Homo sapiens: one gene and its partner. Changing the gene in region 1 together with any one later gene gives a genetic interaction. Each region holds a gene or a part of one and is shown on either strand. Other genes may lie near its edges. The genes, in order: BAG6 and STK11.

Evidence for each region.
Region 2: changes in BAG6 (region 1) and STK11 together harm fitness more than expected from each alone (negative genetic interaction), as found in Homo sapiens cells (one large-scale study listed by BioGRID).

Annotation. Positions count from the first base shown.
Region 1 is NC_000006.12:31,642,443-31,646,444, reverse strand, and holds part of BAG6 (large proline-rich protein BAG6), read left to right. Parts: coding exon 1-51; intron 52-840; coding exon 841-1,038; intron 1,039-1,246; coding exon 1,247-1,499; intron 1,500-1,815; coding exon of another isoform or gene 1,816-1,842; coding exon 1,843-1,920; intron 1,921-2,030; coding exon 2,031-2,138; intron 2,139-2,250; coding exon 2,251-2,363; intron 2,364-2,467; coding exon 2,468-2,555; intron 2,556-3,329; coding exon 3,330-3,616; intron 3,617-4,002. UniProt on the Homo sapiens protein: ATP-independent molecular chaperone preventing the aggregation of misfolded and hydrophobic patches-containing proteins.
Region 2 is NC_000019.10:1,225,855-1,228,931, forward strand, and holds the end of STK11 (serine/threonine-protein kinase STK11), read left to right. Parts: intron 1-599; coding exon 600-793; 3' UTR 794-809; intron 810-1,738; 3' UTR 1,739-2,577; downstream 2,578-3,077. UniProt on the Homo sapiens protein: Tumor suppressor serine/threonine-protein kinase that controls the activity of AMP-activated protein kinase (AMPK) family members, thereby playing a role in various processes such as cell metabolism, cell polarity, apoptosis and DNA damage response.

The DNA of each region.
Region 1 (4,002 bases):
CGCTACTACGAGGTTCTGGGTGCTGCTGCCACCACGGACTACAATAACAATGTGAGCCCTTTGATGGCCCTGCCCTTTCTCCTCAGCCCCAGTACTCCCAAAACAGAACAGGCTGAAATGCAGATAACTCTTTCCCTCCCTGGAAAAACATTGCAACAGGGCCAGGTGCAGTGGCTCACGCCTGTAATCCCAGCACTTTGGGAGGCCAAGGTGGGCGGATCATCTGAGATTGGGAGTTTGAGACCAGCCTGGCCAACATGGTGCAACCCCATCTCTACTGAAAATATAAACATTAGCTGGATGTAGTGGTGCACACCTGTAATCCCAGCTACTCAGGAGGCTGAGGCAGGAGAATCGCTAGAACTCGGGAGGAGGGGGTTGCAGTGAGCCGAGATTGCACTACTGCACTCTAGCCTGGGTGACAGAGCGAGACTGTCTCAAAAAACAAAACAAAACAAAAAAACACACATTGCAACAAAACAATTTCTCTCTAAACCTGTAAGTGATTTTGTCCTCCCTTACAGAGAAGGTGATAATCTTTGCTGTAAGCACTGTCCTCGTATCGTACCCCTTGTGCCCCTGAATGAATTTAGAAAATGTAAAGTACAGGAGATCAGTATATGATGACTTACTGATTCATAGTAGTGTTTTAATAGGATGTTCCTTATGTGAATAAGATATAATTTATTTGCAAAGATTTGGTCTACATGTAAACTTCCAAGGATATAACTGAAAGTTTTGGAGGACATGGTATTCTCAGTAGGCATTATTGCTTTTATTAGTGAGATGGACTCCAGCTTGATATTTTCTGCCTTTTTGTGTTTGGCTGGTTGTGCGCAGCACGAGGGCCGGGAGGAGGATCAGCGGTTGATCAACTTGGTAGGGGAGAGCCTGCGACTGCTGGGCAACACCTTTGTTGCACTGTCTGACCTGCGCTGCAATCTGGCCTGCACGCCCCCACGACACCTGCATGTGGTCCGGCCTATGTCTCACTACACCACCCCCATGGTGCTCCAGCAGGCAGCCATTCCCATACAGGTGGGTTAGGGGGAGTCTGGCCTGAGGGAGAGTGAGGGGTGTTGATAGAGTGACCCAGGGTAGCTACTGGGCCTGAAGGAGGTTAGGAAAGGAGGAGACTGGAAACATGGTGATGAAGGCTGGAGATACTTTAGAGGTTTATCATGAGGTTTTCTTGGTTAGGCTCTTGTATTTTTCTCACATCTGCCTGTCCATCTGTCTTTTTCAGATCAATGTGGGAACCACTGTGACCATGACAGGAAATGGGACTCGGCCCCCCCCAACTCCCAATGCAGAGGCACCTCCCCCTGGTCCTGGGCAGGCCTCATCCGTGGCTCCGTCTTCTACCAATGTCGAGTCCTCAGCTGAGGGGGCTCCCCCGCCAGGTCCAGCTCCCCCGCCAGCCACCAGCCACCCGAGGGTCATCCGGATTTCCCACCAGAGTGTGGAACCCGTGGTCATGATGCACATGAACATTCAAGGTGAGAATAGTTGCTGGCGAGAAGAGCAGGATCAGCATGATGAGGGAGGTTCATGCTGAGGTGTGAGGGAACAGGGTGGGGAAGGGAGAGGCACATGCTGGTGGTGGTAGCCTGGGGACCAGAGCAGAAGCTTAAGTAGACAGATGTGGGGGGTGTGGGGGTTGGTTTGTCTTTGGAGGTGTGTTTGTGTGGTGAAGGGAGTACCTCTCCCTGTTTAGATGGAGGGAAAGGCAGGCTTTCTGATTGGGGGATTATGGGCCTGAAGTATGCCTGATCTCAGAAGGATATAGTTAGGCCTTGGCCCTACCTACCTCAGGGCCACTGTCTCTGTCTCCCTGCCCAGATTCTGGCACACAGCCTGGTGGTGTTCCGAGTGCTCCCACTGGCCCCCTGGGACCCCCTGGTCATGGCCAAACCCTGGGTAAGAGTGAGGGCATCAGGGCAGGCTGAGCTCTGGGTAGAGAAAGGGAAGGGCTGAGTGGGTGGGTTGAAGGGGTCCAGGTTCAAGGTTACATCAGACCCGCCCCCCAGGCTCCACCCTCATCCAGCTGCCCTCCCTGCCCCCTGAGTTCATGCACGCCGTCGCCCACCAGATCACTCATCAGGCCATGGTGGCAGCTGTTGCCTCCGCGGCCGCAGGTAATGACCTGGAAGGGGAGGCTTGGGAGGTAGGGCACAGTCCATGGTGGCAGCTGGCTGGCAAGGGCCTGGCCCTCAGCCCTCTTCGGTCTGTCTCTTCTGCCACCCACAGGACAGCAGGTGCCAGGCTTCCCAACAGCTCCAACCCGGGTGGTGATTGCCCGGCCCACTCCTCCACAGGCTCGGCCTTCCCATCCTGGAGGGCCCCCAGTCTCTGGGACACTGGTGAGCAAGGGTCGGGGAGTTCTAGTGCGTAACAGTCTAGGGAGAGACTCCTGTGGTGGTGCATGGAAGGGCAGGTCTGAAATTCTCCCTTGCTCTCTATCCAGCAGGGCGCCGGTCTGGGTACCAATGCCTCGTTGGCCCAGATGGTGAGCGGCCTTGTGGGGCAGCTTCTTATGCAGCCAGTCCTTGTGGGTGAGTTTTCATTCTTCCCCACTCAGAGTTTAAACTCCTTTCCTAGTCTGCTCACTGGCACTTTCCAGTTCTTTCCATATTTTCTTGGTTCCTGCTTTCCTGGAATGGGGCTGCTGTAGTGTCTTGTGTCTTCAGGTTTCAGCTTTTTTTTTTTTTTTTTTTTTTTTTGAGATGGAGTCTCACTCTGTTGCTAGGCTGGAGTGCAGTGTACAATCTTGGCTCACTGCAACCTCTGCCTCCCGGGTTCAAGTGATTCTCCTGCCTCAGCCTCCTGAGTAGCTGGGACTACAGGTGCACGCCACCACGCCCAGCTAATTTTTTATGTTTTTAGTAGAGAAGGGGGTTTCACCATGTTGGCCAGGATGGTCTCGAACTCTTGACCTTGTGATCCACCCACCTTGGCCTCCCAAAGTGCTGGGATTACAGGCTTGAGCCATCGTGCCCGGCCAGCTTTTTTCTTTTTTTTTTAAGTTACAGAGTCTTGCTCTGTCACCCAGACTGGAGTGCAATGGTGCAATCCAGTGAGTTAAAGCTCACTGTAACCTTGAACTCCTGGGCTCAAACAGTTCTCCCACCTCAGCCTCCTGAGTAGCTAGCAGTACTAGCTCCTGGCTAGTAATTGTCTTTTTTTTTTTCTGGTAGAGATGGGGTCTTGCTATGTGGCCTAGACTCCTGGGCTCAAGCAGTTCTCATGCCTTGGCCTCCCAAAGTTGCTAGGATTACAGCCAAGAGCCACCATGCTCAGCCCAGCTTTCTTTTTTTGGTTTCTTACAGCTCAGGGGACCCCAGGTATGGCTCCACCGCCAGCCCCTGCCACTGCTTCTGCCAGTGCTGGCACCACCAACACAGCTACCACAGCTGGCCCCGCTCCTGGGGGGCCTGCCCAGCCTCCACCCACCCCTCAACCCTCCATGGCTGATCTTCAGTTCTCTCAGCTTCTGGGGAACCTGCTAGGGCCTGCAGGGCCAGGGGCTGGAGGGTCTGGTGTGGCTTCTCCCACCATCACTGTGGCGATGCCTGGTGTCCCTGCCTTTCTCCAAGGCATGACTGACTTCTTGCAGGTGAGTGGCTGGCTTGCCATTCACCTCATCTTCCTGTCCCCCGGCCCAGCCAGGCAGTGGTACCTTCTTGCCATTATATAACCACTGGGTAAGAGCCCCTAGTGACATGTTAGGGGAAGGGGCCCTGGGAATTCATTGACTCTGAACCTTTCATTTTAAAGATGAAGAAAATGAGGTTTAGAAAAAGAAAGTATAGTAATTAGTGTCACTGCTTTCTGACAGCCTGTTCAGAGGAAGAGGTAGGTAAGTTGTGCTGCCTGACTCTGTTAAATACCTACCATACTTCTGCTTTAAGCAGTGAAGATCAGAATGTAACTCCCCATCTTCCCAGACCCGTTGGTTTGTGCCCTCTTGATGCCGTATTATTTCCGTGTGTCTTCATTCTC
Region 2 (3,077 bases), on another chromosome or scaffold:
ACAGTGTCCACCTGGGCAGGGTGGGCAGCCCCAGGCCTGTGGGTTTCACCAGGGTGCTGGTGATGGTTGGTGGCTAGCAGGGACTGGGGGCAGCTGGGGGCCCTGGCAGGCTGAGCTCTGCTCCCCGCGTGGTTCTGTGCTGGCATTTCGCGTGCCTGGCCTGAGCCTGGCCCGAGCCTGGCCCTCCTGTGTCCTCACAGATGAGCATGTGGCGGCTCCTGGGCCTCTAGAACCAACCATGGGCCAGGGTGCCCCAGGGGAGCACGGGAGGGTCCTGCCTTGTCAGCTTGCCTCCTACTCGTGAGGTTCCTGCAGTCAGTACCTGGGTGGGGTCCCACCTGCGGCCATGGCAGGTGCAACAGACGTGGTGGAGGGGACACTCCTGCCCAGGCCATCTGCGGGAGGCTCAGCCCCGGGGGGTGCCTCCCAGAGCTGCTGGGGGGCAGCATTTCAGGCTGGATACACCTGGGCCTGACCCGGGGGCGGGCATGGCCTGGGCAGCAGCTGTAAGTGCGTCCCCGTGGTGGGGGCCAGCCAGGTCCCTGTGGCTCTGGGGTTGCGCCCCTCAGCTCAGGCCACACTTGCCGTCTCCCTCCCAGGACAGGTCCCAGAAGAGGAGGCCAGTCACAATGGACAGCGCCGGGGCCTCCCCAAGGCCGTGTGTATGAACGGCACAGAGGCGGCGCAGCTGAGCACCAAATCCAGGGCGGAGGGCCGGGCCCCCAACCCTGCCCGCAAGGCCTGCTCCGCCAGCAGCAAGATCCGCCGGCTGTCGGCCTGCAAGCAGCAGTGAGGCTGGCCGCCTGCAGGTGGGGCGCGGCGGGGCCCGGGTGGGGCATGTGGGGACAACGCCTGGATGCCACAGCCAGCCGTGAGCATAGCCCGCGCTAGTCAGTCATGGTGACCGTCACGTGGCTGCGCGTGGTTGCCATGTGGCCTTTGGGTGGCTTGGCCACGTAGCGATCCCCGTGGAGGGTGCCGTCTCGGGGCCTGGTGTCTGGCCAGCGTGCTGGTCATGGAGGCCTACGTGTGGCGGGGCTCTGGGGGGGCGTGCCGTCCTCACAGCCACCTCTCAGAGTGGGTGCATTCCGAGGACCCTGCCCTGGGCCTGGCGCCCCCTCCCCATGCCCGCGCCGCTTCCAGGAAAGGCTTATGCTGGGCTCAGCCCAGAGGCTTTTGAGCACCAGTGGGTGGTGGGTGGTGGGGAGGGGCCGCGGCCTCCATGGCTCTGCCGGGGTGCCGCAGGCTCTGAGCCAGCTGCCAAGTATGGCTGAGGCTGAGTCGTGCCGGACGCTGCCCTGTCTCTCCCTGTGTGCCTGCCTCCTCTCCCAGCCCCAGCCCCAGCCCCGGGTGGGAGACGGAGTCCCAGAGGTGTCAGAGACCCTTAAGTCACCTGCCGAGGATGCGGGGTGGATGGGGGCCCGAGGCTGAAGCCCCTGCCTTGCCACAGCCCCTCTCCCAGGTTTTGGGGGCCACCGCCTGAGTTACATGTCTGTCCCCCAAATGGGTGCCCACAGCCCATCCACCAGCGTCAGAGCCCGCCAGGCCCCACTGCAAAAGGCCACACAATGTACCCCGGGAGTGACTCAAGGGTGGCCTTCCCTGGCCTCCCCTGCTGCCCCCCAGGAGTCCGGTAGCCCCATGACTGTACCTCAGCTTCTCCATCCTCCCAGGGGCCCGCGGGAGGCGGAGAACCGGTGCCCAGGCTGACCTCTTCCGTCTTCCTTCCACCCTGCAGCCCGTGTCCAGGAGCCCCGCCAGGTGCCCGCGCCAGGCCCTCAGTCTTCCTGCCGGTTCCGCCCGCCCTCCCGGAGAGGTGGCCGCCATGCTTCTGTGCCGACCACGCCCCAGGACCTCCGGAGCGCCCTGCAGGGCCGGGCAGGGGGACAGCAGGGACCGGGCGCAGCCCTCCCCCCTCGGCCGCCCGGCAGTGCACGCGGCTTGTTGACTTCGCAGCCCCGGGCGGAGCCTTCCCGGGCGGGCGTGGGAGGAGGGAGGCGGCCTCCATGCACTTTATGTGGAGACTACTGGCCCCGCCCGTGGCCTCGTGCTCCGCAGGGCGCCCAGCGCCGTCCGGCGGCCCCGCCGCAGACCAGCTGGCGGGTGTGGAGACCAGGCTCCTGACCCCGCCATGCATGCAGCGCCACCTGGAAGCCGCGCGGCCGCTTTGGTTTTTTGTTTGGTTGGTTCCATTTTCTTTTTTTCTTTTTTTTTTTAAGAAAAAATAAAAGGTGGATTTGAGCTGTGGCTGTGAGGGGTGTTTGGGAGCTGCTGGGTGGCAGGGGGGCTGTGGGGTCGGGCTCACGTCGCGGCCGCCTTTGCGCTCTCGGGTCACCCTGCTTTGGCGGCCCGGCCGGAGGGCAGGACCCTCACCTCTCCCCCAAGGCCACTGCGCTCTTGGGACCCCAGAGAAAACCCGGAGCAAGCAGGAGTGTGCGGTCAATATTTATATCATCCAGAAAAGAAAAACACGAGAAACGCCATCGCGGGATGGTGCAGACGCGGCGGGGACTCGGAGGGTGCCGTGCGGGCGAGGCCGCCCAAATTTGGCAATAAATAAAGCTTGGGAAGCTTGGACCTGGCCGTCTGGGTTTTGTTCGCGTCTCAACGTGGATGGGGCGGCAGCGGGGCGGGCGCCGTTGACATGCGGAGGGCAGTGGGGACTCGGGGCGCGGGAGGGCCGGGGCCGGCTCCCTCAGGGCCGGCGGCAGCAGCGGTGGCGGCGCGGTTATTGCTCGGAGGCGGCGCGGGCTGCCGCCAGCACACGCCGCAGTGAGGTAAACGGTCTCGGAGGTCGGCAGTCACGGTGTTGAGCCGCCTCCCGGCCCAGGGCGGCGAACTCGTCTGCGACCGTTAGCGCCCCGCGGCCCCCGCCCGGGCGAGCTCGCGCACGCGCCCGGCACGCGGCGGCTCCATCGGGCCCAGTGGGCTGCGCGACCCTCGGGTGGCGGGCCCTGCGACTAAGCGGCCGCCCCGTCCGGGACTGAGGGCGAGTGATCGTTGTCCTCAGGAGCCCGAAGCTGAGAGCCGTTCACGCCCCTTCCTTCCCGCCCAGCCGGGGTCTCCGCGGCCCGCGC